7 linked regions of the Homo sapiens genome follow. The protein of the gene in region 2 purifies or fractionates together with the protein of the main gene of each other region. This does not show direct contact. Each region holds a gene or a part of one and is shown on either strand. Other genes may lie near its edges.

Region 1 (4,274 bases), on a different chromosome or scaffold from region 2:
CAAGATTCTGTCTCAAAAACAAAACAAAACAAAAAAACCCCAAAACCACAACAACAAAAACAAACAAAAACAAAAACAAAAAAAGTTGTCAGCCCAATAAGAAGAATGAGTTCTTGACCTAAAGCGATCCTTAAGAAACCATATCCAAGTAATCATGGGAACCACAGTTTCTGGTACCCAGTTTTTTTAGGCAGTCATATGTTGGAAATTGGCAATGAGAAGGCAGGCAACATTAGAGCAAGTCATGACAGTCCCAAAGCCCTGACCCATGTGTGGAAAAGGAGAATCGGAACAGCCTTTCTTATATGGCTGTTTGGAATTACTTATTATTACTTTATTAATAAGTCTCCTACATCTACAACATTTTTACAGAATGCTTTCTCCAACTTGTAGCCTTCACGGAAACTTGGCTCTCTCTTAAGGAGAGCTTACACATAGAGGCTGTTCGTTCCCCCACACTCCACATCACAAGGCCAGGAGGAGGTGTTGGCATTCTGCAAGCTTCTTGAGGTTACTGGTCTGCTGCTTCCAGATTCTTGTACTTTCATTCTCTTCTGAGGGACATCAGAGGAGTCCTATATTCCTACGAATCACTGTTTTGAGCCACCTCCTGGCTACTCCTCCTGATTCACTGAAGACCTTGGAACCTGGCTCATACTTTTCCTCATCTTGTTATCTCCTAAACCTCTCCTCCTACCTCAATTATTCTACTTGTTGGTCACAATTTTCCATCCCTTCAGCTTTCGCTCAGTCTGTCTCCTATGCTTGCTTTCAATTTTCTCTGTTTATTTGACTAGCTGCTCCATTCTAACTAATTTGGGCCAATGGTAGAACACCCAAACTGTTCTTTTGCCAGTACCTTTAATTCCCTTGCACCCTACTCCTTCTTATGGTTAAGAGCTTGAGCTTTGGAGTCAGAGAGAATAGGGCCCCAGTCTTTGCACCACTCTTTACTAGCTGAGACCATTCAATTAAGCACCTACTATGTATCAAGTTGAGACAGTGATCCTTGCTGCTTTCAGAGTTTAGTGGCCAAGACAATTTAACAAGCACTAACAATAATCAAGAGTGACAAATGTGATGTAAGTGGTAAGAACAGTGCAGGTAGCGCTGGGAACATATGACATGTGCAATCTAGTCAGGTTGGGTTGGGTAAAGCTTTCTAGAGGCAATGACATGAACTGAGATCTGATGGATAAGCAGCTTCTTTAGCCTCCTTTGATTTGTCCTTGGTAAGCTCCCTCTTCAATCCAATCCCGCTACTCAACCCTCACGGTGTTCGCTCTCAGATAACCATCTTATGTTCTATTGTATTGCAAAAACAAATGAAGCCATTAGATGTGATCTTCCATAGCTTCCCATGAGGCATGAGGGCTCCCCACCACCCCCGTCCAGCCTATTAACATGCTTGTCCCATCCAATAGGTCCCACCTTTGATTCTATGTCCTCTTCACGCTTTTATCCGATTGCCATCTCTCTTTTCTCATTTAAATCTTTTGAAAGAGTGCTTTACCCTCTTTTCTAACTTCCCAATGGTATCTGTTTTATTTTATTAATTTTTTGAAATGGAGTCTTGTTCTGTCACCCAGGCTGGAGTGCACTGATGCAATCTTGGCTCACTGCAACCTCCGCCTCCTGGGTTCAAGCGATTCTCGTGCTTCAGCCTCCTGAGTAGCTGGGATTACAGGTGTGCGCCACCACACCTGGCTAATTTTTGTATTTTTAGTAGAGATGTGTTTTCACCATGTTGGCCAGGCTGGTCTCTAACTCCAGACCTCAAGTGATCCACCTGCCTCAGCCTCCCAAAGGTATCTGAACCGCCAAATCTCACAGTGCATTTTACGGTTCTTTTCTTCCCAGATTCCTCTGCCACGGTAACACTGTGGATCACATTCTTTTTCTTGAAACTCCCTACAACCTTGGCTCCTGTCCTCAGGTTTCCTCATACTGCTCTTTAAGTTCTTTCCTAGTCTCCTTTGTGGGTTCTTCTTAAGCCTGCTTCCTAAAAATTGGGGTTCCCCAGGGCTCTATCCTTGCCTTCCTCCTCTTCTCACCAGATCAGTTCTCCCTGGGAGGCTTCACCTACTCTCATGGTTTCAACTTCTACACATATGCAGATGATTCTCAGCTCTCTATCTGAGCCCAAGTCCCCTGGGCGTGGCAGTCATATGTCCAACTGCCCAGAAGACACCTTCACGCAGATATTCCACTTCATACTTAATGGTCCAAAACTGAATTTTATCTTCCCCCTTAAACTAGCTCTTCCTCTTGTAATGTCTTTCTCAGCTGTGGGTACACTGCCATCCACTCAGACATGCAGGCTAGAAATTAGAAAATCATCTTTGCCTCCTCCATCTCCTTCATCTTCTACCTTTAACCAACCACCAAGCCTCATCAAGCATGACTCCTAAGCATGCCTCAAGTGTGTTCCCTACTTCTCATCACCTTTCTATCAAGAAGTAATACTGGCTGGACACGATGGCTCATGCCTGTAATCTCAGCACTTTGGGAAGCCGAGGTGGGTGGATCACCTGAGGTCAGGAGTTCGAGACCAACCTGGCCTACATGGTAAAACCCCATCTCTACTAAAAAGACAAAAAAAAAAAATAGCCAGGCATGGTGGCGCATGCAGCTACTTGGGAGGCTGAGGCAGGAGAATCGCTTGAACCTGGGAGGCAGAGGTTGCAGCGAGCTGAGATCATGCCACCGTACTCCAGCCTGGGCGACAGAGTGAGAATCTGTCTCAAAAAAAAAAAGTACTGTACACTGTACACTGATGTTATTAATAGCTTAGGCTCTGGAATCAGAATAGCTGGGTTCCAATTCTGTGGCTCAGACAGACCCGGGCTCAAATTCTCTCTCTACCACTTACTAGCTATGTGAGTTTAGGCAAATTATTTAAAATTTATTTATTTTTAAAAATTTCAACTTATTTCTCTGTAAGAGGGAAATAATACCTACCTCATAAGATTATTGGGAGGATAAAATGAGATGGTGCACATAAAGCATTTAAGAACTGTGCTTACAAGATTAGAATAGGTACTATACAAATTTTACCTCTTACTTTCTTCTTCTTCTTCATCATCATCATACCACTACTATTCTAATTTGGGCTCTCATCATCTCTTGCCTAGATTATTGCAATAATCTCTGAAATGGTCTCTCTCTAGTCTTGTCTCACTGAAATCCATCCTCCTCACGGCCAATGGTGATTATTTAAAATTCAATTGCCTAAAATGCAACAGCTCCCCAGTGCAGAAAAAGCTCTTTCACGCAAAGCCCTCCACAATCAGGCCCCTTGCATAACTTCTCAGGTTCATCTCTTGCCACTTCCTAACTTGTACCTAACTGCTCTATCAGTATCGAGCTGCTTCTATTTCCTGGCACCAAACATGCTTTTTTGTGCCCTTGTGCTTTTGCTTATGCTGTTCTTTTTTACTTGGATGCTCTTCAGTCTTCTCTAGTCTGGTGAATGCCTCTTCATTCCATAAGATTGCCCATTCTGTAAGACCTTCTCCTCCAGAAAGCCTTTCCTGATGTCATCACTCTACTGGGCACCCTTCCCAGTATTTCCCACAACATACTGCGCAGATCTCTCTTACTACACACCTATGTGTTATGATTATGTATTTATGTTTCTGCCTAATACAGTTAGCCCCTAGAGGGCAGGGCCTGAATGTTGTTTACACATAGGGGACACTAAATGTCTCATTACCGGCTTATCAACAAACCTATATCCATCTTCTCTGTCTAATGTCCCCTTACAGGAGAAGTGAGTATGTTCCTAACGAAGGACAATCCTTCCACTTATGCTGTGTATCTCATCTACTCTGGGCTTTGCTCCTTCAGAGAATGCGTCCCTATTGGAACACTGCCATTAGTTTACACACACACTCTAGTACCTGCCATTAACAACAATAAAATATAACAAAACCATCCTGGGACTCCACAAATACCTGCTAATAACTGACCTTATTACTCAGACACTCACCTTTTAAAGTCTAACAATATATTCCGTGCTGAGTTATGCCCAAATTATTTTACTATGAGTAATACATATTTGTCAATCTTTTCTCATCGATAATCCCAGAGAGAAGTTAGTGTGGGAAAACAGGAAGGATGAGGAAGGGCAGAAGAGCAAATAGGAGAGATAACAGCTTTTAGGGTCAAGTTGAGTCAGCATGCTAACCTAGGCTTTGATACTAGTGCTTTCCCCAGAAAGACACACTCAGCATTATTAAACCTAAAGCAGCTCGATCCTTCTTTGATGAACT
Region 2 (2,998 bases):
CATGTGGATTTAATGCGGTTTTGGCCCACACCAGAAGTCACTTGTCTTAAAGCCCTCTCAGACGTCATCAGGGGTTTGGGCTGTGACCTGATTTGAGAAAGGAAGTTCCGAGAATCTGCCCAGCTATGTCCACAAATCCACTGCTTTGGAGACTCTGGCGCATCCAGCATGTCCATTTCTGCCTTCTCCTCACTCTATAAAATGAAATGGGCTGAGCCCTTCAAAACGGGCAAAGCAGCCTCTGATGGCAATCTCTTGACTGTTCCTGGTGGATCTGGAGTATCTTCTGGCCAAGTCACTTCATTCAAAGGTGTGCTTGGGGACTATTTAACATGAGAACTGCTTTTCTGCCATTTTAGAGTGAACAACTCCTGTAGGAGAAATGTAATAGAATTTAAGTGTCTAATGAAATATCTCATCCTACATCATTTCCTGTGCTTTTATCTAGTTGGCAAGACAGAGCCTATTTATAAACAAAGACCTTGAAATATAGGCCTTGGAGAACTTGCCTTACCACAAAGAGTGCAGATAAAAAGAGGCACTGGGTCAGCACATTTCATATAAAGAGGCAAATGCTGGATTAAATAGAAATGGGTGGATTGAAAAGATGATGCAGCACTGATTCCCCTGGGACCCTGGGTCTACCCAAGCAGCAGTGAAGATGGCCGCTTGGCACTGTGTCTTCACCTTAAGGCTCACCTACTCCTGTTTTTACAGAGGAAGCTGGTGAAAGTCCTCTCTGGAAGGTGAAAGCATAAAATGTGGGAAGCTGCTACCTAAAATCTCCATGCTGGCTCTGCCATGTACTTGTTATGTAGTTTTGGGTAAATCGTTTAACTTCTTTGAGCCTTAACTTTTGTTTCCATACAGAGCACTATCATCCTCGTAATCTTCCCAAGAACTAATATCATTAAGTGCTTATGTATGCCAGGCACAGTGCTAAGTAACTTATACACAGCATATGAAATCTTTACAAAAACTATGAGTAGTCCTATTGTTCCTATTTTACAGATAAGGCAACTGAGGCACAGAGAAGTTAAATAACTTTTCCATGGTCACAGAGGCGGTAAGTGTCAGAGATGGGACTTGAACTGTTCTCTGTAATTATAAACGCTGCATGTTCTAAAGATATGCTAGTCTGCTTACCTACTTGAAAAATGAGGACAGTATAGCTGATGGTATAGATTGTGATGAGAAGCAAATGAAATGAGTGTAAAAGCATTTTTGTAAATGGTGCAGTATCTGTGGCAGGCCTGGCTGGCTTTGCACCACAGACTCCTGCTCCTCTTCTGCAGTAGAGTGCTATTGCTGGAAAGCAGCTGCCCAGCCAGAAACTACATTTCCCAGGCCCCCCTGCATCTCGAAGGGGACATGTGACTGAGTTCAGGCCAAAGGAATGTCACATGGCCATGACAATCTCCAAAGGGACTCTTCACACTCGGTTTTCCTTGTCTGCTTTCTGGAGTGTTCCTAGCTGGGGCAGCCCTGGAAGTCACCTTTTTGGTTCTGGTTGTGTTTTGTCTTGCTTTTTGTTTTTGAGATAGGCTCTCGCTGTGTCACCCAAGATGGAGTGCAGTGGTGTGATCTCAGCTCACTGCAGCCTCAGCCTCCGGTGCCCAAGTGATCCTTCTACCTCAGCCTCCCAAGTAGCTGAGACTAAAGGCACACATCACCACGCCCAGCTATTTTTTGTATTTTTTGTAGAGATGGGGTTTTTCCACATTGCCCAGGCTGGTCCTGAACTCCTAAACTCAAGGACTCCATCTGCCGTGGCCTCCCAAAATGCTGGGATTACAGGCATGAGCCCTTGCACCCAGCCAAATCACTTCTTGAAGATGGCAATGACTCCTTCAGCCTGGATACTTTAATAACTCTCTGGAGCCAAGCATCTTACCCACTCACCCTCTTAGACCTTATGGGAATGAGAAAGACCCTTCTATAATGTTAAGACTCTGAAATTTCTGCATTTTTCTGTTGTTACAGGAGCTAGCATTATTTTGACTAACATATGACTTTGTAAATGCTGTGGAAGGCAGCTTCTAAAATGGTTTTCAAAGATCAATCACTCTTGCCTCCTGGTAGTCACATCTTTGTAGAATCCGTCCCCCTTGAGTATGATCTGGACCCACAGCCTTACTTCTAATAGATAAGAACATGGCAAAAGTGATGGAGTGTCACTTCTGAGACTAGGTTACAAAAGCCTGTGGCTTCAGTCTTGCTCCCTTTAACTCTTTTTTCACTCTGATGAAGCAAACTACCCTGCTATGAGCTGCCCTCTGGAGAGACTCACCTGGGCAAGGAACTGAGGGCAAACTCTGGCCAACGGCTGATGAGGAACTGAGGCTCTGGGTCTAATAGCCAAGGAGGAAGTGCATCTGGCCAAGAACCATATAAGGGATCTTGGAAGCAAATTCTTCCCTAGTCAAGCCTTGAGATCACTACAGCTCGGCTGACACTGTGATTGCAGCCTTGTGAGAGACCCTGAGTGAGAGGATCCACCTAAGCCACACCCAGATTCCTGACCACAGAAACTGTGAGATAATAACTGTTCTTTTTGTTAAGCTGCTACATTTTGGGGTAATTTGTTAAGTGCTGATAGGTAAGTAACACAGATGTAAAAATGTATTATTTCATTAACACAACCTGCGTGCACTTTGATTCATTTGACTGTGGCAGGTGTTAGATAGCAGGCTAAGGAATTTAGAAACTAATCAAAGCATGGCTTTCATGGAGTAATGACAGAGTGTGAAACAAAAGCCCTGATGGACACAGGAGCAAACCAGTCTTTGGACCAGAAGGTAAATGACAGTTACACGTGTAAATTTTGTTTTAGACAGAGTCTTGCTCTGTCACCCAGGCTGGAGTGCAGTGGCGTGATCTCAGCTCACTGCAACCTTCACCTCCCTGGTTCAAGCAATTCTCCTGCCTCAGCCTCCTGAGTAGCTGGGATGAGAGGCAGTGGCCACCTCTCCCAACCAATTTTTGTATTTTTAGTAGA
Region 3 (4,301 bases), on a different chromosome or scaffold from region 2:
ACAGGCACGCATCACTGTGTCTAGCTAATTTTTGTACTGTTATTTAGTAGAGACGAGGTTTCATCATGTTGACCAGGCTGGTCTTGAACTCCTGGCATCAAGCAATCTGCCCACACTAGCCTCCCAAAGTGTTGGGATTACAGGTGTGATGTGCCCGATGACTAACAATTTATTGACTTTACAATAATGTGAAAGTGATACATTTTATTTCTTTTTTTCATTTGTCTTTTTTTTTCTTCAGTAAAGATGGGCTCTCACTATGTTGACCAGCCTGGTCTTGAACTCCTGGCCTCAAGCAATCCTCCCATCTCAGCCTCTCAATGTGCTGGGATTACAGGCATGAGCCACTGCACCAAGCCAAAAGTGATACACTTTCAATAGAAATCATATTCCATGCACCCATACAGCCATTCTGTTTTTCACTTTCAATTCAGTATTCAATAAATTACATGAGATATTCAACACTCTTGTATAAAATACAAGGCTTTGTGTTAGATGAGTTTGCCCAACTGTAGGCTAATGTAAATGTTCTGACCACTTTAAGGTAAAGTAGGCTAACCTATAATGTTCAGTAGGTTAAATGTATTAAATGCGGCCAGGCACGGTGGCTCACGCCTGTAATCCCAGCACTTTGGGAGGCCGAGGCAGGTAGATTACTTGAGGTCAGGAATTTGAGACCAGACTGGTGAACATGGTGAAACCCCATCCATACTAAAAATACAAAAATTAGCCGAAGCCAGGCACGGTGGCTCGCCTAATCGCGACACTTTGGGAGGCCAAGGCAGGTGGATGACCTGAGGTCAGGAGTTCAAGATCAGCCTCGCCAACATGGTGAAACCCCATCTCCACAAAACATACAAATATTAGTCAGGCGTGGTGGTGATGTCTGTAATCCCAGCTACTCGGGAGGCTGAGGCAGGAGAATTGCTTGAACCCAGGAAGCGGAGGCTGCAGTGAGCTGAGATCACGCCACTGCACTCCACCCTGGGTGACAGAGTGAGACTCCGCCTCAAAAAAAAAAAAAAAATTAGCCAAGCATGCCAAGCGTGGTGGCACATGCCTATAGTCCCAGCTACTGGGGAGGCTGAGGCAGTAGAATTGCTTGAACTTGGGAGGCAGAGGTTACAGTGAGCAGAGATCATGCCACTGCATTCCAGCCTGAGTGACAGAGCAACACTCCGTCTCAAAAAAAAAAAACAAAAAACAAAAGTCAATATCCTCAGCTTGGGTGACAGAGCGAGACTGTCTCAAAAAAAAAAGTCAATATCCTGGGGCAAAAGGATATGAAACTGTTCTAGATCCAAAAAGATTTTTGATAAATAAAAAATAATAAATAAATAATAAAAAAGAAAACAAAACAAAAAGAAAAGAAGGAAAAAGAAAACACAAACACACACACAAAAGAGACTAAATAGACATAATGGCCAAACACTAAGCTCAATTGTATCCTGGTTCCTAAAAACAGCCGTAGGCTGGGCACCGTGGCTCACACCTATAATTACAGCACTTTGAGTCACCGAGAGGGGAAGATCATTTGAGCCCAGGAGATTGAGACCAGCCTGGGCAACATGGTGAGATCCTATCTCTACCAAAAAAAGAAAGAAAAAAGAAAAAAAAAGCTGTAAAAATTATTCCTCGGGTAATTGGAGACATCTGAACACAGCTGAATATTTAATAATGATATAAAGTTACTGCATATTGGCCGGGCGTGGTGTCTCACGCCTGTAATCCCAGTACTTTGGGAGGCCGAGACGGGCGGATCACGAGGTCAGGAGATCGAGACCATCCTGGCTAACATGGTGAAACCCCGTCTCTACTAAAAATACAAAAAAAAAAATTAGCTGGGCGTGGTGGTGGGCGTCTGTAGTCCCAGCTACTCGGGAGGCTGAGGCAGGAGAATGGCATGAACCCGGGAGGCGGAGCTTGCAGTGAGCCGAGATCGCACCACTGCACTCCAGCCTGGGCGACAGAGCGAGACTCTTGTCTCAAAAAAAAAAAAAAAAAAAAAAAGTTACTGCATATTTTGTTAGACGTGACAAAGGTTTTGTAAAAGAGGAAGTCTCAAAGTATAGCCTAGAGAACCCTGACATTCTGCAAAATCAAAACGATTTTTGGACTTTTTGCCCATTTTCACTCGCATTCCCCAAAAACATTTGGGGGAGAGGGGCGCGGTTCTAAAAGTTTCATGACCTATAGTGACATAATTGCTCTGATGGCTGATGAAATTTGTGCTTGTTTTTTTTTTTTTTTTTTTTTTTTTTTTTTGAGACAGTCTTGCTCTGTGGCCCAGGCTGGAGTGCAGTGGTGCGATCTCGTCTCACTGCAACCTCTACCTCCTGGGTGTTCAAGTGATTCTCATGCTTCAGCCTCCTGAGTAGCTGGGATTACAGGAGCGTGCCACCATGCCCGGTTAATTTTTGTATTTTTAGTAGGGACGGGGTTTCATCATGTTGGCCAGGCTGATCTCAAACTCCTGACCTCGGGTGATCCGCACACCTCGGCTTCCCAAAGTGCCAGGATTACAGGCGTGAGCCACCGCGCCCGGCCTGTGCTTGTGTATTGTTATATTTTGTACTATTATTTCAATGTAGATTTTAAAAAATTCAAAATAAGAAATTGTGGGTGGGGAACATATAACATCTTGACCTAAAGCAGCCTTCATTGTCCCTGAAACTTGTCGAGTGATTTCCGCAACAGCCCAGCCTGCCTAACCCCAAATTCTTTCAACAAATTCATTCTTCCCTTCCATGATGCATCATGTCTGTGACACATCCCCAGAGCTTTTCTTTCATCTGTTGCCTGCAGCAGCTAAACCTGAAACTACCCCCATCAAAGAAACATAACCCAGAAGGAATCCTGTAAAGCATTCAGCTTGCTGGCCTTGGAGTTCCCACGGCCTACACTGCCCCCTGGTGGCAAGTAAGCTCTCAGCTTCTTTTCCATTTGGTTCCCAAGTTCTTTCCCTTCATTACTCAAAACTATAGTAAACACCTCTTATCTGCCTGGGATACATTTCAAGACCCGGAGTGGATGCCTAAAACCGCAGATAGTACAGAACCCTACACACTATGCTTTTTCCTATACATACGCACCTATGATAGAGTTTAATTTATAAATTAGGCACATTAATAAATCAATAATAACTAATAATAAAATAGAACAATTACAGCAAGGCATGATGGTGCACGTCTGTAGGCCCAGCTACTTGGGAGGCTGAGGCGGGAGGATCACCTTAGCCAGGGTTCAATACCAGCCTGGACAACATAGCGAGACCCCCACCCAAAAAAAAAAAAAAAAGAATAGGTCGGACACAGCAGCTCAAACCTGTAATCTTAGCACTTTGGGAGGTCAAGGCAGGTGGATCACTTGAGGTCAGGAGTTCGAGACCAGCCTGGCCAACATGGTGAAACCCCATCGCTACTAAAAATCTTTTAAAAATCAATTAGCTGGGTGTGGTGGCACTCGCCTGTAAATCCAGCTACTGCTACTCGGGAGGCTGAGGCAAGAGAATCGCTTGAACCCAGGAGGCAGAGGTTGCAGTAAACCAAGATTGTGCCACTGTACGCCAGCCTGGGCAACAGAGTGAGACTCCATCTCAAAAGAAAAAAAGATGAAGTGATGGATGGTTAGAGATGTACACTGTAAAAAAAAATTTTAAGCCTGGTGCAGTGGCTCACTCTAATCCCAGCACTTTGGGAGGCCAAGGAGGGAGGATTGCCTGAGCCCAGGAGGTCGAGGCCAGCCTGGGCAATGTGGCAAAACTCTGTCTTTACAAAAAACACAAAAACTAGCCAGGAGTGGTGGTGCACACCTGTAGTTCCAGCTATTTGGAAGCCTGAGGCAGGAGGATCGCTTGAGCCAGGAGGTTGAGGCTGCAGTGAGCTATGATTGCACCACTGCACTCCAGCCTGGATGACAAAGTGAGACCCTGTCTCAAAAAAAAAAAAAAATTTTTTTTCAGCTTTTCTCTATGCTTGAAATTTTTCATAATAAAATGTTGGAAGAAAAATTACTCGTTTCACAATGTTAAAAGGAGGAAGTATTGAAACCCACACTTGAGCCACATAAGAATCAATGGTGGAGCTTTTAAAACATGCCAATTCCTTGTGTCCACCCAGAACAATTAAATCAGACTCTCTGATTCTAAGGGACCTGGGGGATCAGTGTTTTCAGCAGTACTTCTCTAAGCCAGCATATTTAACAGCAAACCTAACTTTCTGATTCGGCCACCCTGTGGCAGCTAAGATGTTCACTTCTCAATCAGTTTATTAAAAAAAGAAAACTTGGGCCAGGTGCGGTGG
Region 4 (4,301 bases), on a different chromosome or scaffold from region 2:
CCGCTACTTCACCTTGGCAATCCCCCCAGTGTACTGGGCCACAGATCTGTCAATATCCACGGCCTCTGCGCTCCCCCAGGCCGGCTGGACCCCCAGGAGGTACTTCCGGGCACAGTCCACCAGATGCTCGTGCTCCACGCCCACGCCGGCCAGCACCATGCGGTCGGGAGTGTAGTAGTTCCTCAGGTAGGAATGCAGCACCTCTCGGTTGATCTTTGCTACGTTTTCTGTGGGGCAGAAACGGTGGAGGCCAACTGTGTTCTCCCTGTAAGCCGCCTAATGGGGAAGAGCCACAGACACAGGTGACTGAAGACAGCATGACCAGGCTTCCTCCAACAAGCAGCACCAGCGCCCATCTGCAGCCAGCCCTGGGAAAATCCGACGCAAGCTGATATTTTACTTGCACTCTGGCAATAGCAGCTGCGTGCGTATTTATAAAGAGTAAAATCTGCCTCTCCAGAATACAAATTCACAAAAAGCCTAAGATTAATTGTGTTTAGTAGTAAAGACCTAGTTACTATAAAAACTGGAAAATACGAACATTGTATAAACAGCAGACTCAGAAATCAAGAATGTTCTAAGCTGAGTGCGGTGACTCACGCCTGTAATCCCAGCTACTTGGGAGGCAGAGGCAGGAGGATCACCTGAGCTGAGCCCAGGAGTGCAAGACCAGCGTAGGCAATGTGGAGAAACCTCATCTCAAAAAACAAAAAAATGTTCTGTATATATCCATAACCTGCAAGGACAACATCACGGAGGCACCCTCCCCACCACCCCTGGTGTCCCGAGGACCACTGTTCGAGATGCGGGGGCATTCTCGAGTTTGACATTTTACTTCATGAATCATCTCGGTGAGAAGTGGCTCTGGGTCAGGCCGCAGGTTCAGGTCCTCCAGCTCAAACTGGACCGCCATCCGCGTCATCTCGACTTCTTCATCTGCAAGAGAACCCAAAGGCCAGGGCTGAGTCTGCACAGGCAGAGATGAGGAACACAGCAGTGACCCACAGCTTGTGTGCTGGCCTGAGTGTCGCCTGTTGGTGGCTGTTGGCAGTCACCTCTGCCTTCATCTAGGGGCAGACTGGGTGCTTGTGTGAGTGAGGGGGACTGCTACAGGGAGCAGGAGCTAGGGGACCTGGGCCTCACATCCCGCCTCAGCCATGAAGCAGCCACGTGAGCCTGCTAAGCCCTGGCTTCCTTGCTGGTGAAAGGCACCGAAGACACTGGACCTGTCTGTCCCAAGTGCTGCTGTGAGGACACGAGACCAGACATGAAGGTGCTTAGAAACAGAGGCACACGCTGGGTGCGGTGGCTCACGCCTGTAATCCCAGCACTTTGGGAGGCCGAGGTGGGTGGATCACCTGAGGTCAGGAGTTCAAGACCAGCCTGGCCAGCACTGTGAAACCCCATCTCTACTAAAAATACAAAAATTAACTGGGCGCGGTGGCGGGCGCCTGTAATCCCAGCTACTCAGGAGGCTGAGGCAGGAGAATCACTTGAACCTGGGAGGTGGAGGTTGCAGTGAGCCGAGATCGCGCCACTGCATTCCAGCCTGGGTGACAGAGACAGACTCTATCTCCAAAAAGAAACAGAGGCACAGACAGATGTCAAGGGCGCCTTTCATCAGTTGTGACCACAAGATCTTAACGTGGGACTGTAGCCTTTGAACACCAAGCGCAAGCTGCTGTGAAACTGCACCCTTAGGGTATCTGGAAAAGCCAACGTTCCCCTCTCCTGGTCCACCCCTGACAGGGACTCAAAGTCCTGCCATCTGCAAGGCTGAGGAGGGTAATGGAAACAGTGAAATGGAAATTTCTGGCACACACCATTCCACTTGTTTAAAGACGGTCCGAGGTGCCCTTCCGAAATCAAAGAACCAATTTCGCTAAAAACATCCCACAGGGATGAGGGCACAGATGTCTCAAATACACATTCTCTCAAACACTAAGGACTTTTACAATCACCAGTGGGTTTTTTTTCCTTTTTGTGGAGAACAGAGTCTTGCTATGTTGCTCAGACTGGTCTCGAACTCCTGGGCTGAAGTGATCCTCCCATCTCTACATCCCTAAATGCCGGGATTACAGGCGTGAGCCAGCACGCCTGGCTACTAGCACTATTTCTTTTTCCTTTCTTTCTTTTTTTGAGACAAAGCCTCACTCTGTTGCCCAGGCTGGAGGGCAGTGGCACAATCATGGCTCACTGCAGCCTCAACCTCCCAGGCTCAAACGATCTTCCTACCTCAGCCTCCCGAGTAGCTAGGACTCTAAGTGTAAGCAACCACAGCCAGCTAATTCTTGTATCTTTTTTGTAGAGACAGGGTTTCACCATGTTGCCCAGGCTGGTCTCAAACTCCTGGGCTCAAGCGATTTGCCTGCCTGAGCCTCCCAAAGTCCTGGGATTCCAGGTGTGAGCCACCATGCCCAGCCCCAGCGCTATTTCTTATGAGATCTCGCTGTCACTTTGTGTTGGCCTAAAGCTCCAATTACATGGTGCTCTCCCTCATGGCTACAGGGCTTCTGCAAACCTTTCCGGTCTTCCCTATGTCCAAGCCCACCTCAAACGCCAGCGGCTGGGATCCACACCTGTTAGCCGGGGCTGCAGAACCACATCAGCCAGTAAGGCAACCACCGTGTCCAAGCCTTTGCTATCAGCAGACACAGCATACATGGTGGTGTCTCTGGAAGAAAACACAAGCCCATAATGCCAGGCCCTGAACTCACACTCTGCTTAACAGCCAGGGGACGCTCGGGCTTTGCGTGCCAGGTGGACAATGCCAGGCCCTGAGCTCACACTCTGCTCAACAGCCAGGGGACACTTGGGCTTTGCATGCCAGGGGCACCTACCTTTTGTTGGGGCCCAGCAGACATTTCAGGGACGCTTGGGCTTTGCGTGCCAGGGGACACCTCCTACCCTTCATCGGGGAACAGCAGACACTTTTCCCCTTTCTCTTTTCCTGTCTTACAGTGTGAATGCTTGGTAGGCAGGACTCACAGCTACACACAGCTTGAGTCAAAATGGAGCCACTTCTGATACAGATTTTTGTAACTATACTCTCTCTCAAAAGGTGAAGTGTTTCATCCCAGCCTCCTGTTGACTGAACGAACCCACTGGTGAGTGTGGAAACATGCCCGGCCTTGGCTGGCTTGGGGGACAGCAATGGCTGGCTCGTATGGAGCTTGTCTCACTGTAACATCTGTTCCCGGCATGAGGCACTGCACAGTCAGAAGTGCACAGAGCTGGCCCATGGGACAGGCACGAAATCATGGGGTGCTCTGAGATCAAGTGTGATCAAGGGAGACCATGCAGAGCAGACGCAACAGCCACGAAGAAGAGGGAGCTTGGGAGGCAGGACGCAGTCACCAGTGCCTCTGAAGAGGGGACTTGGCTGGACCTTCACCCTGAAGAGGAGCCATTCTCAGTGACTTTGGCTCTCCACATGGGGAGAATGGCAAGAACAAAAGCCTGAGCTGAGGGCGAGGGGGGCTGGGTCTGAGTCAGGACACCAGCCACCTGGCCAGAGAAAGGAGTTCATCTGGGATGAGTGAGATTCGAGGCAAGAGTCGGAGAATCAAACACACCAGGCAGGAACCTGGCAGGGGCAGCTGGGAGTCAGGGGGTATTAAGAGGCCTTGTTTTAGAACATGAATATGTTACCTCCAAGCTAACTTTAATTCTTAGCATTTAATGTGTCTTTTATGTGTAATTTTTTTAGCATTCAAACTTAAATCAACAATTTTAAAAATCTGTGATCTATATTCACCCATCTCACATTGCCCAGTGCTTTCTGAACAAGCTCCACACCTGGCATGCAAAGACCACTGCACTGTGCTCGAGGCAACACTGCCCCCTCCCTCCACCAAGCAGCCGGCACCTCCCTGGCTCGGTGCCTTTTGCCCCTGCTGTCTCCTGGTCTGGAATGCCTTGTGCCCCGTGTGTCTAGCAAACTCCTTCTGGAACCAGCCCAACCCTGCATTTCCTATGATTCCTTTCCCAACTCCAGACCAAGTCAGCCACTCATCCTCCTGGCTCCTACCGCCTTTGGCTACGGGGTCCATTACGTATGCAAGGCCCTCTGCTCTATCTGGGAACAGGGCCTGCTCTACATCCCTGGCATGCAGCCAACAGCCTGGAGGAACTGACGGGGGTCAACTGAGCTCCTGGGGGCTGTGCTTCTCTGTGTAAGCGCCATCCACCCAAGTCTCCATCCAGGACAGGGCTCCTTCTCCCCGTGAATCTCCACACCTCCCGCTGGGAGGGGCTCAGAGGGAATCTGAGCAACGACAAGAACGTCAGTTCCCAAGGAC
Region 5 (4,186 bases), on a different chromosome or scaffold from region 2:
TTTTCTTGCTTCTCTTCAGAAATAAACCTTTAAAAAGATGTATATAGGTGGGCTAAAAGAAAAACTATTTTTTCCCCTCAGGTGGGGGAATTTAAAGTGTTAAGGGCCAGGCATGTTGGCTCACATCTGTAATCGCAGCACTTTGGGAGGCCAAAGTGGGAGGATCACTTGAGTCCAGGGGTTTAAGACCAATCTGGGCAATATGGCGAGACCCTGTCTCTCTGAAAAATGAAACAAAAAAAGTGTTAAGGCAGTCAAAGTGTTGTGTCCCTGACCACTCACCTTGTTCTCTAAATCCCAGACCTGAACTGTGTTTCTTAGGGCCAAAATGAACTGAAACATAAATTGCCTGGACCTACCTCAGACTAGAGACACTCCTGAGTCTGGAGAACCAACCCAGGAGAAATAGCACAGCCATCTGACCCGAGTTATCATACAGTTCTTCTCATTGTCCTATTTTATTTTCTCTAAAGCACAAATCACTATTTTATTTTTTTATTTTTTGAGATGGAGTCTTGCTCTGTAGCGCAGTCTGGAGTGCAGTGGCACCATCTCGGCTCACTACAGCCTCTGCCTCCTGGGTCCAAGTGATTCTTCTGCCTCAGCCTCCCAAGTAGCTGGACTACAGGTGTGGGCCACCATGCCTGGCTTACAAATCACTATTTTAAATGATCGTGTTTTTTTTTTTTTTTTTTTTTTTTGCATGTTTTTCAGCTGTCTTCCTCCATCAGAGCGTAAGCTCCATAAAAATCAAGACTGTGTTATTGGCTGGGCGCTGTGGATCATGCCTGTAATCCCAGCACGTTGGGAGGCCGAAGCAGGCAGATCGCTTTGAGCTCACGAGTTCGAGACCAGGCTGGGCAACATGGCAAAACCCCCTCCTCTTAAAACATAACAAAACAAAAACCAAAAATTAGCTGGACATGGTGCTATGTGCCTGTGGTCCCAGCTACTAGGGAGGCTGAGGTGGGAGGATCGCTTGAGCTGGGGAGACAGAGGTTGCAGTGAGCTGAGACTGCACCACTGCACTCCAGCCTGGGCAACAGAGTGAGACCTTGTCTGAAAATAAACAAATAAAAAATAAAATTAAGTATTTTAAACACTAAGAAAAGCTCCCATTATCCTTATTAACACATCCTAAGATTTTACCACATTGCTTCACATTTTTTTTCTTTTTTTTTTTTAAAGGATAGAGACAAAAATATATAGGAGATGGAGAAGTGGCTAATGTGGCAAGTTTCTGAAAATAGACAGTCTTTATTAACTCATAAGACAAATGGTTCACATGCATCTCTTATATAAACTCAAACTACAGATCCCAGGCAGCACTGCAATAATAGACACGTGGACTGTTCTTTTCTTCTCTGTAAACAGCCAATGAGAGGCAGAGTTTACAAAGGTCTAGGATGACATCTGGTGTATTGACTGTGGCCAGTCTTAAAGCTAGTTTTTGCTATGTGGAACATGCTGCTCTAATTCAGATTTAAAGAGTTTCTTCCTGTTAATTCGAAGCTCACTGTGCCTCTTGTTTCCGAGGGAAGAAGGACTGATTAAGTCATCTAAATGGATGCAATACTGAATTACAGGTCAGAAGATACTGAAGATTACTACACATTACTGGGATGTGATGAACTATCTTCGGTAAGACAGTGGATAATATTTTTATCACAACAGTATTCTTTTTCACAATAGTATTTCAAGTTTTTATTTAAGGTTTTAACTTTGAATTTTTAGTCACATTGCCTACAAACCTAACCTTGTGTTGTTTTAAAGCACTTTTGGCTCAGAGAAAGTTAAGAATTTAAATGTATGTTGGGATTTTACTTGAATAGTGTCCTATGGGAATTTTACGGAAGCTTCTGATTAAATATGTGTATTCTGGCACATGGCCATATGCTGTTTCACAATATAGTATATTAAAAATAAATATTTGAAATTTTATTGTAATTTCTGATGGCAGTGTTTCACAGTATATATAAGCTATACCTTTATTATGGTGACTCATAATTGAGGTGAAATGAAATTTCTTATAAAATTAGGGATTTTAATATATTTTATTAAAATGTGTACTCCTATGTGAGCAGTCAAAATAGAAACAAAGAAGCATCCCTTTATGTTAATATTTCAAATTGTGTGACAGAAATTACTTCTTGAAAGGGTGGCTTCTGAAACAAAACATGTGAAAACTCTGTAGCTGTTCACTGGATCTGTAAGAAAACAAAATTTTTAAAGTTCTCAATAAACAATTATAAAGGTTGTAGAGGTTTTTTAAATTATGGAAAAATCATTTATAATTCTCTCTCCCAAGGATAACAGTATTAATATTTTGGCATATTAATCTCCACTATTCTTTCTATGTATATTCTTTAAAGACCTGTTTGGGAGGATATTATATGTACTTGTTGATTCCTGCTTTTTACCCATTCGTATTATAACAAGGAATTTTCCATGCTATTAAACTTTCCTTGTACACTTTTTAGTGGTTGCAAAATATTTTATTTTGCTGTGTTACCACAGTTGAATTATTCTCTTATTGTTAAATATTTTATTTCCAATTTTTCAATATTTCAAATAATGTTGAGATTAATATAAAATATATTCATTATTAAATTATATATTATTAAATCATGTTATTAGGATATATTTATGTTTTATAATTAATGTATTTTATTTTATTTATTTTTATTAAAATCTAAGTAGTAAAATTAACATTGTAAAGCAAAATGTTTTTATATTTATTGTTGTTTCATAAAGGCAGTAGTTCATTAATAAAATGTGCTTAGTTTTGTTTTAAGAATAGAATGCATTACTGGACACAAAGGATTAAAATCTCTATTTTTGCCATGCTGAGGAAGTTATCTTAGACACGTTGAAATTAAAAAAACTGCCCCGCCCCCAGAATAGCTTATAATGGTCTTTTAGTTGCATATTTCTTCTCAAGAATGTGTTATTCTTGTTTATGTTGGTGGTGATTTGCTTATAGCAATTGAGAAAGCTTATTACCATTTTTACCATGTGTTATTCACAGTTGAAATTATACTATTATCAAACAATTTTTGAAGGAATAATTTAAAATCAAAGGAATATAATTTAACTTGATAAGGCTGACAATTTGGATTTAAAAAAATACATGCTAGCTTATACAGTAAGGGTCATTATATCTCCATAATCTTGTGACCTATTTAGTCAGTCCTTTTTTTTTTTTTTCAATTTTACTTTAAGTTCTGGGATCCCTGTGCAGAATGTGCAGGTTTGTTACATAGATACACATGTGCCAGGGTGGTTTGCTGCACCTATCAACCCATCATCTAGGTTTTAAGCCCCGCATACATTAGGTATTTGTCCTAATGCTGTCCCTCCCCTTCTCCCCCACCCCCCGACAGGCCCCGGTGTGTGATGTTCCCCTGCCTGTGTCCATGTGCTCTCATTGTTCATCTCCCACTTATGAGTGAGAACATGTGGTGTTTGGTTTTCTGTTCCTGTGTTAGTTTGCTGAGAATGATGGTTTCCAGCTTCATCCATGTCCCTGCAAAGGACATGAACTCATTCTTTTTTATGGCTGCATAGTCAGTCTTTTGAAGTTATGCTGTTGTCTTTTCAATCTACATAGAAGGAGGATTCATTTTGGACAGCCTTACAGAAAATAATCTCGTTGTTAATGTGTAATATTCAAAATATGGTTACCAGGTGGAGTCATACTTCCTTGTCTCAACATTCCTTTTACTGGATGTATTTTACTGGTCTGTCAATGGCATATCATATCTAGATAACAATTATTTATTTTTAATGAAATGTTTGTCATAATATTGTCACTTCTTTATATATATGTGTGTGTGTGTGTGTGTGTGTGTGTGTGTCATTTTTTCTCTCTTTTTTTTGTTTTTTTGAGATGGAGTCTCACTCTGTTGCCGGGCTGGAGTGCAGTGGTGCAATCTCAGGTCACTGCAACCTCCGCCTCCCAGGTTCAAGTGATTCTCCTTCCTCAGCTTCCTGAGTAGCTGGGACTACAGGCACATGCCACCATGCCTAGCTAATTTTTGTATTTTTAGTAGAGACGGGGTTTCACCGTGTTGGCCAGGATGGTCTTCATCTCTTGACCTCGTGATCTGCCTACCTCGGCCTCCTAAAATACTGGGATTACAGACGTGAGCCACCGCACCTGGCTTTTCTCTTCTTTTTATAGGTA
Region 6 (4,301 bases), on a different chromosome or scaffold from region 2:
CAATGGTATTAGGTGAAATTGCTAAACTGGAAATCTAAACTAGGCAGAGGGATGAATGCACAAATACAAAACAGAAGCATTCACCTCATGTATGGATTTAGTACCAGCAGCCAAATGTCACCAGCAGGGTTGTGAAACTGGAATCCAGTAAGAGTTCAAGAATATGGGGAGGCCAGGCGTGGTGGCTCATACCTGTAATTCCAGCACTTTGGGAGGCCAAGGCAGGCAGATCAGTTGAGGCCTGGCCAACATGGCAAAACCCCGTCTCTACTAAAAATTAGCCATGCCTGGTGGTGCACGCCTGTAATCCCAGCTACTCTGGTGGCTGAGGCACAAGAAGCGCTTGAACCAGGGAGGCAGAGGTTGCAGTGAGCCAAGATCATGCCACTGCACTCCAGCCTGGGTGACACAGTGAGACTCTTTCAAAAAAAAAAAAACGAATACGGGGAAAAGTCTGAGAAGTGTTTCAGAAGAAAGGCTTCTCTGCGAGTTCCTGGTTCATGGGAGTTGGGATAGAAGATCCCTTCCAGCCCTAGAAGAGTGTTGTGTCATGGGATCATGACTGGCATTTGGGGGTAGGACAATCCTTCATTGGGCAGGAAGGACTGAACTGGTTCCCTGACACCCATTCAATGCCAGCATCATGCTCTCACTGGACAGCCAAGATCACCCTCAGAGATTTCCAAAAACCCCTAAGGGTGGGTGGGAATCTCCTCAGCTAACTACTCAGGTAGAGATATAATCCCCTAACAATTTTTCTCCAAACTGTGAGCAAAAGCACAGATGGGGCAGGGCACGGTGGCTCACACCTGTAATCCCAGCACTTTGGGAGGCCGAGGTGGGCAGATCACGAGGTCAAGAGATCAAGACCATCCTGGCCAACATGGTGAAACCCCATCTCTACTAAAATACAAAAATTAGCTGGGCATGGTGGTGGGCGCCTGTAGTCCCAGCTACTCGGGAGGCTGAGGCAGGAGAATTGCTTGAACTGGGGAGGCGAGGTTGCAATGAGTTAAGATTGCGCCACTGCACTCCAGCCTGGGCGACAGAGTGAGACTCCGTCTCAAAAAAAAAAAAAAAGCACAGATGGACTTACCATATTCAGGGGTACTCAAGTTTTTCCAGTGTTAAAGATTAGTATAAAATCAAGGTGGCACCAGTCTTGGCCCTGGTTTGCTAGTCCCTGGTGGTCTAGCTTCTGTACCATGGCCAGAGGCAACTCTTTCAGAAGACTTGGCTTAGAGTGGAGCTTTCTTTCAGTAGGAAGACACTGTTTGCAGTAAGGACTTCCTTTTGATGTTAGAGAATTAAGCCTAAAACCATTAGCAAAGGAGAACCAGGTACACAAATGTACTTGCACACGCTTTTATGGGGTGTGGAAACCATCCAATGCTGTTCAGTCCACTCCTTTCCCCCACTTCACTCCTTAGCAGCTTGTTAGAACTGAAGCTTAAAATGGTTTCTGTTGTCTTGCAGCCAGCCTGCAGATCCACAGTTGGCCTCCCTCAGGGACTCTCTGTTAACCTGTTGACAGGCAATAGTCAATTAGGAGCATTAACCAGGATCTGCCAAGTTTGCCAGGACAAAGGTGGCAGTCAATAAATGTAGAAGTCTATTGAGTTTAAGATATAATAATGGCTCAGACATCTGAATGAACACCAAGCACATTATTATAGTGCAAGGACACAGTCAAATCAGATATGCAGTGGACTTTGGCTTTCCAATAAATACTTTCATTGACCAGTGCACAGAAGGAGGTGCATGGGCCCCTGGTTCTGCATGTAGTATGAATGTGTAGAACTGGAATTGAAACAGTAATAGGTATAGGATGGGATTTTGTAAGAATCATCCATTTGTCATATGTTCAACAAACATGTACCTGAGCACTCCTGCTATGTAAGACCCTGTCCAGCCAAACGTCAAACTAGAACATTCTGGGTCATGTTGAAACCGGGAACAGACAAATATTTACAATGTGATTGCAGAAATTCACCACAGGCTCTCACAAGCAGTTCTTTCCTTTCACTGCTCCTGATTAATCTTCTCTCTAGAACTGACCCTTATAAAATATTCCAGACCCCCAACTGTGGTCTGATGGAAAGGAGACTGGGCAGGAGCTCAGAGGACACAATTTCAAGTCCTTAGCGGGGTGACCTTGAGCAGGTCAACATCGGCACCTCAGTTTTCCATCCCTAAGAGAGGTAACATCTGCCTTGCTCTTCTCACAGGATCACGGTGAGGGCTATAGAGACATGATATACATGTCAGAGCTTTGTAGACTCTAAGAGAGCATTTCCCCAACAGGTAAGAGGCAAACACTGTTCCTCAGGATGGAAAAAAAAAACGGGCCCAAGCTCAAAAAAGATGAGTGCTGGATTAGACAAGGTTAATCAGGATGGTTTCTTTTCTTTTCTTTTTTTTTTTTTTTTGAGAGACACAGTCTCGCTCTGTTGCCCAGGCTGGAGTGCAGTGGCATCATCTCACTGCAACCTCTGCCTCCTGAGCTCAAGCAATCCTCCCACCTCAGCCTCCCTGGTAGCTGGGACCACAGACATGTGCTACCACACTCAGCTAAGTTTTGTATTTTTTGTAGTGACGGGGTTTTGCCATGTTGCTCAGGTTGGTCTCAAACTCCTGGGCTCAAGTAATCTGCCCACCTCAGCCTCTCAAAGTGCTGGGACTACAGGCGTGAGCCACTGTGCCCAGCCTTACGCATCTTTAATGAACTAAATAACACATACACTATATGAAATAAATGTACCCAGAGTGATTCTTCACGAGAGAGACACTGTGACGTAATTTCCCAACCCTTTCTTAAGGACACCCAGCAATTCAATGTTCTGAAAGCAGTGTGGGAAAATGCAGCTGTAAGGTATTAGATTGTTCTCAGCAGAAAAGCAATATGCTCTTACCTGTCCTTCACTTTGTTCACAGGCTAAGGAAGCAAGAAAGTGGAGGGGCGGGCAGAGCCAGATCCAGTGGTTTCACTCATGCAAGACAGAAGTCACTGTCTATCCTGTGGCTGGAGGGGCTACTTTGCTCAGAAGACACAGGTCTTCCCCAGAATCTCACGTGGCTGCTTACTGTTTCCCTGTCTTCTCTCCCCATTTTGTCCTTTGCTAAGGAAACTGAACTGAATTCCAGGTCTTCTCTAATAGAGTGTCTCTCCTTCAACAGGGAACAAAACTACAGTTGCCTGTAGTTTTTGCTTCTGTTCAGTCTCCATCATGGCATGCCATACTCTCCTGGTTTGTGCCCTGCTTGTTTCTTTACTGCCTTCCTGCCTGCCCTTTCTGTGCTGGAGGCTCATCCCATTCATGCTCAGCCCTCCTCGCTGTCTACACTGTCTTCTTGGGCAATCGTATCTAGTCCCAAGCCTTTTTAAAAAACAAGCTCTACCCATCATGGTGGAATTCCTGTCTATAAAAGGGCACACCTTCAGACCTCCAGGCACCTCCAGAGAACAGTGCTGTGCACAAGAAACCGAATTCAGTTGTGTGGGACCTGCAGCTGCAATCAGGTTTCAAACTCCTACTGAAATAACTAAGACTGCCCTTTGCAATCTTGAAGCTTATATAATAATTTTAAGTGGTATAAAATAAATCAACATTCAAAGCAGGGATAGCTAAACATCCCAGTGGTTTCCAAATTCTGTTTAGTCTCTATATAATAAATACCCAAGGCAAGACCAACAAAGAGGCAAAGTCTGATGTTTTGGGAAGATTTGGACAGAGAAAGGTGGGTTCCCTTGCATCTTCGCAGACATTTCCGACCCTTCCTAAAACTCCTCAAGTTCATCTGGCTCAGACAACCTCTTCCAATACTCTGCTTTTTGCTAATGAAAGAAAAGCTAAATCTTGGATCATAAGCAGCATCTACAGTTTCAGTGCAGCATGTCTGCTGACGAGAGGTAGCACTGCCAGCTGCATCTGAACAGCATTCTCCTGGAGAAAACTGAAACAGAAGGGCGGTTCATTCTCAGTGGTGGATGATGAGCAGGTCTCCTCTGTGGTGTGCATATGTGGTTTCTAAGTTTTATATGATGACAATGTATAACTTCATAAATAAAAGGAAAGCAGTTATTTTTAAAAAAGGAAATGTTCTTCCACATAAGGCACCAGTAAAATTGTGACCATACAACAGTAGATTTTTTTTAATTTTTATTTTTTTGTAGAGATGAGGATCTTGCTGTGTTGCCCAGGCTGGTTTTGAACTCTCAGCCTCAAGCCATTTTCCTGCCTTTGCCTCCCAAAGTGCTGGGATTACAGGCATGAGCCACCATGTCTTGCCAGTTTTGTGGG
Region 7 (4,301 bases), on a different chromosome or scaffold from region 2:
GGCGCATGCCTGTAGTTCCAGCTACTCAGGAGGCTGAGGCAGGAGAATCGCTTGAACCTGGGAGGTGGAGGTTGTGGTGTGCCGAGATCGTGCCATTGTACTCCAGCCTGGGCAACAAGAGTGAAACTCCATCTCAAAAAAAATTTACTGAGGAGATCAGTGGTTTTATATATAATTTTTTGATATTGTATAGTGAAATTTTTCAATATTTGGTAGAACAGTACAATCCAGTGGAGTAGTATTTTCCAAATGACTAATCCACACTGTTACAAAAACGGGTGGAAGATCCATTCAGAGAGCAAGACAGACCAGGAGATATTATTTAACTTTATTTATCTTTGTTTTTTGAATCAGAGTCTTACTCTGTTGCCCAGGCTGTAGTGCAGTGGCACGATCTCAATTCACTGCAACCTCCACCTCCCAGGTTCAAGTGATTCTGCAGCCTCGGCCCCCAAGGAGCATGCGCCACCACTCCCAACTAATTTTTGTATTTTTTCGTAGAGACACGGTTTCACCATGTTTGGCCAGGCGGGTCTCAAACTCCTGACCTTAAGTGATCCGCCTGCCTTGGCCTCCCAAAGTGCTGGGATTACAAGTGTGAGCCACTGCGCCTGGCCGATAGACCAGTACATTTTAATGCAACAGTGTAAAAATCTTAATATGATTTCATATTCCACATCGTAACTAGACTTCGAAAGTTATTGAATTTTGGAGTAGTATTAACCCCATAATTATATATAGGTTGTAATTTTAAAAATACATATATTTAACCAAAACAACACACTGCAACAGGCTAAATGCAGATGTGAGAATTTAGCTGGCTTGTTTTAAGCCAGCCAGCCAGCAAAAAGGTTTGCAAAAATAGAAAGCAGTGTCACTGTTCTCACTACATTTTGTGTTTGTAATGAGTATTTAATTATTTTAAGGAATTAATAATTTGTAGGTTTCTCTGTTTTAATTTCTGTGTGATAAATATGAACAGACACAGCCCACACACGCAGACCCTCCTGGGAGTTTTCCGTAATTTTTAAGAACATCGATGACTGAGACTCACGAGTTTGAGACCCACTGATCTCATATATACGCCTGTTTCATTGATTCTCAGATACAGTTTAAGGTACATGTTATTATCATTGTTAGTAATGGACTTAATCGTGTAAAAAATCTCTATATAGTTGTATCATCATTTTTAACAAAAAATTCGATTTTCTTATTTTTACTTTTTTTAAATTCAGGAGCAGTATTTTTCCTTAAGACCTGACCTGAAGACGAAAAGCTATGGCAATATCAGTGAGCGTGTGGAACTGAGAAAGAAGTTGGGCTGTAAATCATTTAAATGGTATTTGGATAATGTATACCCAGAGATGCAGATATCTGGGTCCCACGCCAAACCCCAACAACCCATTTTTGTCAATAGAGGGCCAAAACGACCCAAAGTCCTTCAACGTGGAAGGGTAAGAAAGCTGTTTTTTCCAAGTGGCTTATGAAAAGCGTTTGATATGAAAAGTTTTGAGGTGTCCATAAGCTATGACAGGTGACACTGTGGACTTAACAGAGTGTAATGACAGGCTTCAGCTTGCCTTTCATTATATTCTCTTTATGGGAACTTCTCTACGCAAGTGTAGGACCTCAAGTGTAGATCCTTGCCTTGCCGGCATAGCTGCCTTCTGTGAGGGTAAGTTATGTGACGCTTTCCAAGAGCGCAGAGGCATATGGGAATACACCCCGGACAGAGGCCATGGAAGTGTCAACTTCGTGTGTCAGAGGCCAGGCCAACAAGTGGAGAAATGGGGCAGTGATCTGCTATTTGCTCTTAGCTCTGGGAACCAAATCACAGAGCAGAGGTGGTAGTGAGGGTCAGAGTGGGGACATGGATTTCATGCCTGGTGTTCCCAGAAGTCATCTGAGCTCAGCAGAAAGCACATTGATCAACCACATTTCCTTAGCTGTCTTTGTGTCTTAAACTCATTACAGTTATATAGTCACAGTTAAATTGTAGGGGTCCGGCCATAAAATCATCCCCTTCTCCTGAGTCATCTCTTAGAGTTGGCTTCTAAAAGCTAAGGGCAGGTACTGTCTGTGTTGCCCAGTGTCCCTTCTTTTATGAAGAAGGCACTTCTCCCAGAGCAGTGTCAACTCTCCCTCAGTGGCTAGGAGGAAGCCTAGAGCTTTCCCCCTTCCTCTTCTCTCTACCCTATAATAAGACAAAAACAAACCCAGTATCAGGATGTTTAGTGTCAGGTGTTTTTCTCTAAGTAGGAGAGAGCAGTGTGTGCCCATGTAGTTGATCGCTTACCATTATTATTTCTTGCTGTTTGTCTCACCCTCGCAGTTCTGTGATAGTTGTCACCGGTGTCTCTCCAGTGTAGCATGCATATTGCATTTCATTGTGTACTTTTTTATACATGTTGTTCTTATATCCCTGACTTCATTTGAAGGTTCTTTAGGGCAGGGATGACATTTTAATTTCTTTCATCTGCTGTAGATTAGTAAACATGTATATGTAGCTAGAATTCCTAGCTGACACTGTCTGCATGTTAAAACTGCTAATAACTTTTGGAGTTATAACTTTTGTCTATCTTGATGCTCCTGTGTTCTGAGGCTAGAACTTAGGAATTAAAAATGCATATATTTTTATGAGCCTTGGAATTCGTACCTCCGGAATAACCTTTCACATTTTGCCTGGAACCACCTCCAGGCTTGGGAGGCGTCTCTGGGATTGTTTCCCACATTCTGAGCTGTGCCTTCTCTTACAGCTCTATCACCTCCAGACCAACAAATGCCTGGTGGCCCAGGGCCGCCCAAGTCAGAAGGGAGGTCTCGTGGTGCTTAAGGCCTGTGACTACAGTGACCCAAATCAGGTGAGTGACACCTCGGGGCTCACAGCCAGTGTCCGCAAGGAGGCTTCCAGTGTAGGGAAGCTGCTGCCAGTCACTCCTGAGGACATCAGTGTCTACTATTCTGGCTTTTCTTAACCCATTTCTGTGTAGTGTTGCGTTATTGGAACGCTAAGCTTATGGGGGTTATCTATATCCTAGTGCTCAAGGTCACCGCCAGGGTCTGATTTTTCACCGAAAAAAACTGCAACCTCCAGCATAAATGGGTTAAAAGGAAGAGAGTGGCCTTAGATGACACCTCAGTCAGCTACTTTCGTCTCCTTTGTATGTTTTTCCTATCTCTGCTCGTCGTCATAGAGCATTTTAGTTGTTTACACCATTATTTGTACTTTCTAATATTATGCGGAATAAATTGTGACTTACGAGCCATAGGAATTTGTTAGAAATGGCCAAGGGAAGCACTACAGAATTTCAGTTGATTCCATTCACCTAATTTCATTTCAGCTTATGTATGTCTCCTAAATAATATTAAAACGGGCCTAAAAATCAGCAAATAACTTCAGTTTAGAACGGTAATTTCAAACTCGTTTATGTCTGATAAAATAGCATAATGGAACAGCAGTCTAATCTCATAAATTGTAGTGTCTCATTTCTATTTTAGTGGTGGGTTGGTGTCACTCAGAAAGGAAAAAAAAAGCCACTTGGGCTTTTGGGTAAATAATGTGTGCTGTGATGTGTGCTGTGAGATGTCATCCAGCGCTCCACCAGAAGAGGTCACGCCCACTGTCTCAGGTGATACGTGTGTTGAAAATGTAGTTTAAAAGGGATTTCTGGGGCCCAGTGCAGAGGCTCATGCCTGTAATCCCAGCACTTTGGGAGGATGAGGTGGGCGGATCACAAGGTCAGGAGTTCAAGACCAGCCTGACCAACATGATGAAACCCCATCTCTACTAAAAATACAAAAAAAATTAGCTGGGTGTGGTGGTGCGTGCCTGTAATCCCAGCTACTCAGGAGGCTGAGGCAGGGGAATTGGTTCAACCTGGGAGGCTGAGGTTGCAGTAAGCAAAGATTGTACCACTGCACTCCAGCCTAGTGACAGAGTAAGACTCTGTCTCAAAAAAAAGAAGGGATTTCTGTGCATCTTCTGGGTAGAAGAGGTGGCAGTGTTGTGGAAGTATTAAAATCGCGGTGACGCAGTTTCAGTGGTGTAGGTCACAGTGAGATGAGAGCTGAAATTTGTTCCAGAAAATATAAGTTGGGGTGATGGAGTTATCCTATTCTAAGGCTAACTTAGTTATGCTTATTGCTTAGTTATGCTTATATGCATAGTTGTGCTAATTCTGTAGCCACTAGTCACATTTCAAGTGTACAATAGCTGCATGTGGCCAGTAGCTCCCTTATTGGACACAGGCTATGAGACAATAACAGTGTTGCAGAAAATTCTCTCACAGCTCCCTATGACT

Evidence for each region.
Region 1: the proteins of SUCLG2 (region 2) and AIFM1 purify together in Homo sapiens (affinity purification with mass spectrometry; 2 studies listed by BioGRID, with this or other methods). This does not show direct contact.
Region 3: the proteins of SUCLG2 (region 2) and ETHE1 purify together in Homo sapiens (affinity purification with mass spectrometry; 2 studies listed by BioGRID, with this or other methods). This does not show direct contact.
Region 4: the proteins of SUCLG2 (region 2) and PMPCA purify together in Homo sapiens (affinity purification with mass spectrometry; 2 studies listed by BioGRID, with this or other methods). This does not show direct contact.
Region 5: the proteins of SUCLG2 (region 2) and DNAJC12 purify together in Homo sapiens (affinity purification with mass spectrometry; 3 studies listed by BioGRID and IntAct, with this or other methods). This does not show direct contact.
Region 6: the proteins of SUCLG2 (region 2) and SLC25A15 purify together in Homo sapiens (affinity purification with mass spectrometry; 2 studies listed by BioGRID and IntAct, with this or other methods). This does not show direct contact.
Region 7: the proteins of SUCLG2 (region 2) and GALNT11 purify together in Homo sapiens (affinity purification with mass spectrometry; 3 studies listed by BioGRID and IntAct, with this or other methods). This does not show direct contact.

Annotation. Positions count from the first base shown.
Region 1 is NC_000023.11:130,141,102-130,145,375, forward strand, and holds part of AIFM1 (apoptosis-inducing factor 1, mitochondrial isoform AIF precursor), read right to left. Parts: intron 1-4,274. UniProt on the Homo sapiens protein: Functions both as NADH oxidoreductase and as regulator of apoptosis.
Region 2 is NC_000003.12:67,376,135-67,379,132, forward strand, and holds part of SUCLG2 (succinate--CoA ligase [GDP-forming] subunit beta, mitochondrial isoform 2 precursor), read right to left. Parts: intron 372-2,998; coding exon of another isoform or gene 328-371; exon of another isoform or gene 1-327. UniProt on the Homo sapiens protein: GTP-specific succinyl-CoA synthetase functions in the citric acid cycle (TCA), coupling the hydrolysis of succinyl-CoA to the synthesis of GTP and thus represents the only step of substrate-level phosphorylation in the TCA.
Region 3 is NC_000019.10:43,516,765-43,521,065, forward strand, and holds part of ETHE1 (persulfide dioxygenase ETHE1, mitochondrial), read right to left. Parts: intron 1-4,301. UniProt on the Homo sapiens protein: Sulfur dioxygenase that plays an essential role in hydrogen sulfide catabolism in the mitochondrial matrix. Hydrogen sulfide (H(2)S) is first oxidized by SQRDL, giving rise to cysteine persulfide residues.
Region 4 is NC_000009.12:136,412,926-136,417,226, reverse strand, and holds part of PMPCA (mitochondrial-processing peptidase subunit alpha isoform 1 precursor), read right to left. Parts: intron 2,675-4,301; coding exon 2,580-2,674; exon of another isoform or gene 2,552-2,579; intron 937-2,551; coding exon 836-936; intron 277-835; coding exon 13-276; intron 1-12. UniProt on the Homo sapiens protein: Substrate recognition and binding subunit of the essential mitochondrial processing protease (MPP), which cleaves the mitochondrial sequence off newly imported precursors proteins.
Region 5 is NC_000010.11:67,835,389-67,839,574, reverse strand, and holds the start of DNAJC12 (dnaJ homolog subfamily C member 12), read left to right. Parts: upstream 1-1,386; 5' UTR 1,387-1,563; coding exon 1,564-1,641; intron 1,642-4,186. UniProt on the Homo sapiens protein: Probable co-chaperone that participates in the proper folding of biopterin-dependent aromatic amino acid hydroxylases, which include phenylalanine-4-hydroxylase (PAH), tyrosine 3-monooxygenase (TH) and peripheral and neuronal tryptophan hydroxylases (TPH1 and TPH2).
Region 6 is NC_000013.11:40,799,358-40,803,658, reverse strand, and holds part of SLC25A15 (mitochondrial ornithine transporter 1), read right to left. Parts: exon of another isoform or gene 2,935-4,301; intron 1-2,934.
Region 7 is NC_000007.14:152,115,922-152,120,222, forward strand, and holds part of GALNT11 (polypeptide N-acetylgalactosaminyltransferase 11), read left to right. Parts: intron 1-982; exon of another isoform or gene 983-1,117; intron 1,118-1,235; coding exon 1,236-1,454; intron 1,455-2,756; coding exon 2,757-2,861; intron 2,862-4,301. UniProt on the Homo sapiens protein: Polypeptide N-acetylgalactosaminyltransferase that catalyzes the initiation of protein O-linked glycosylation and is involved in left/right asymmetry by mediating O-glycosylation of NOTCH1.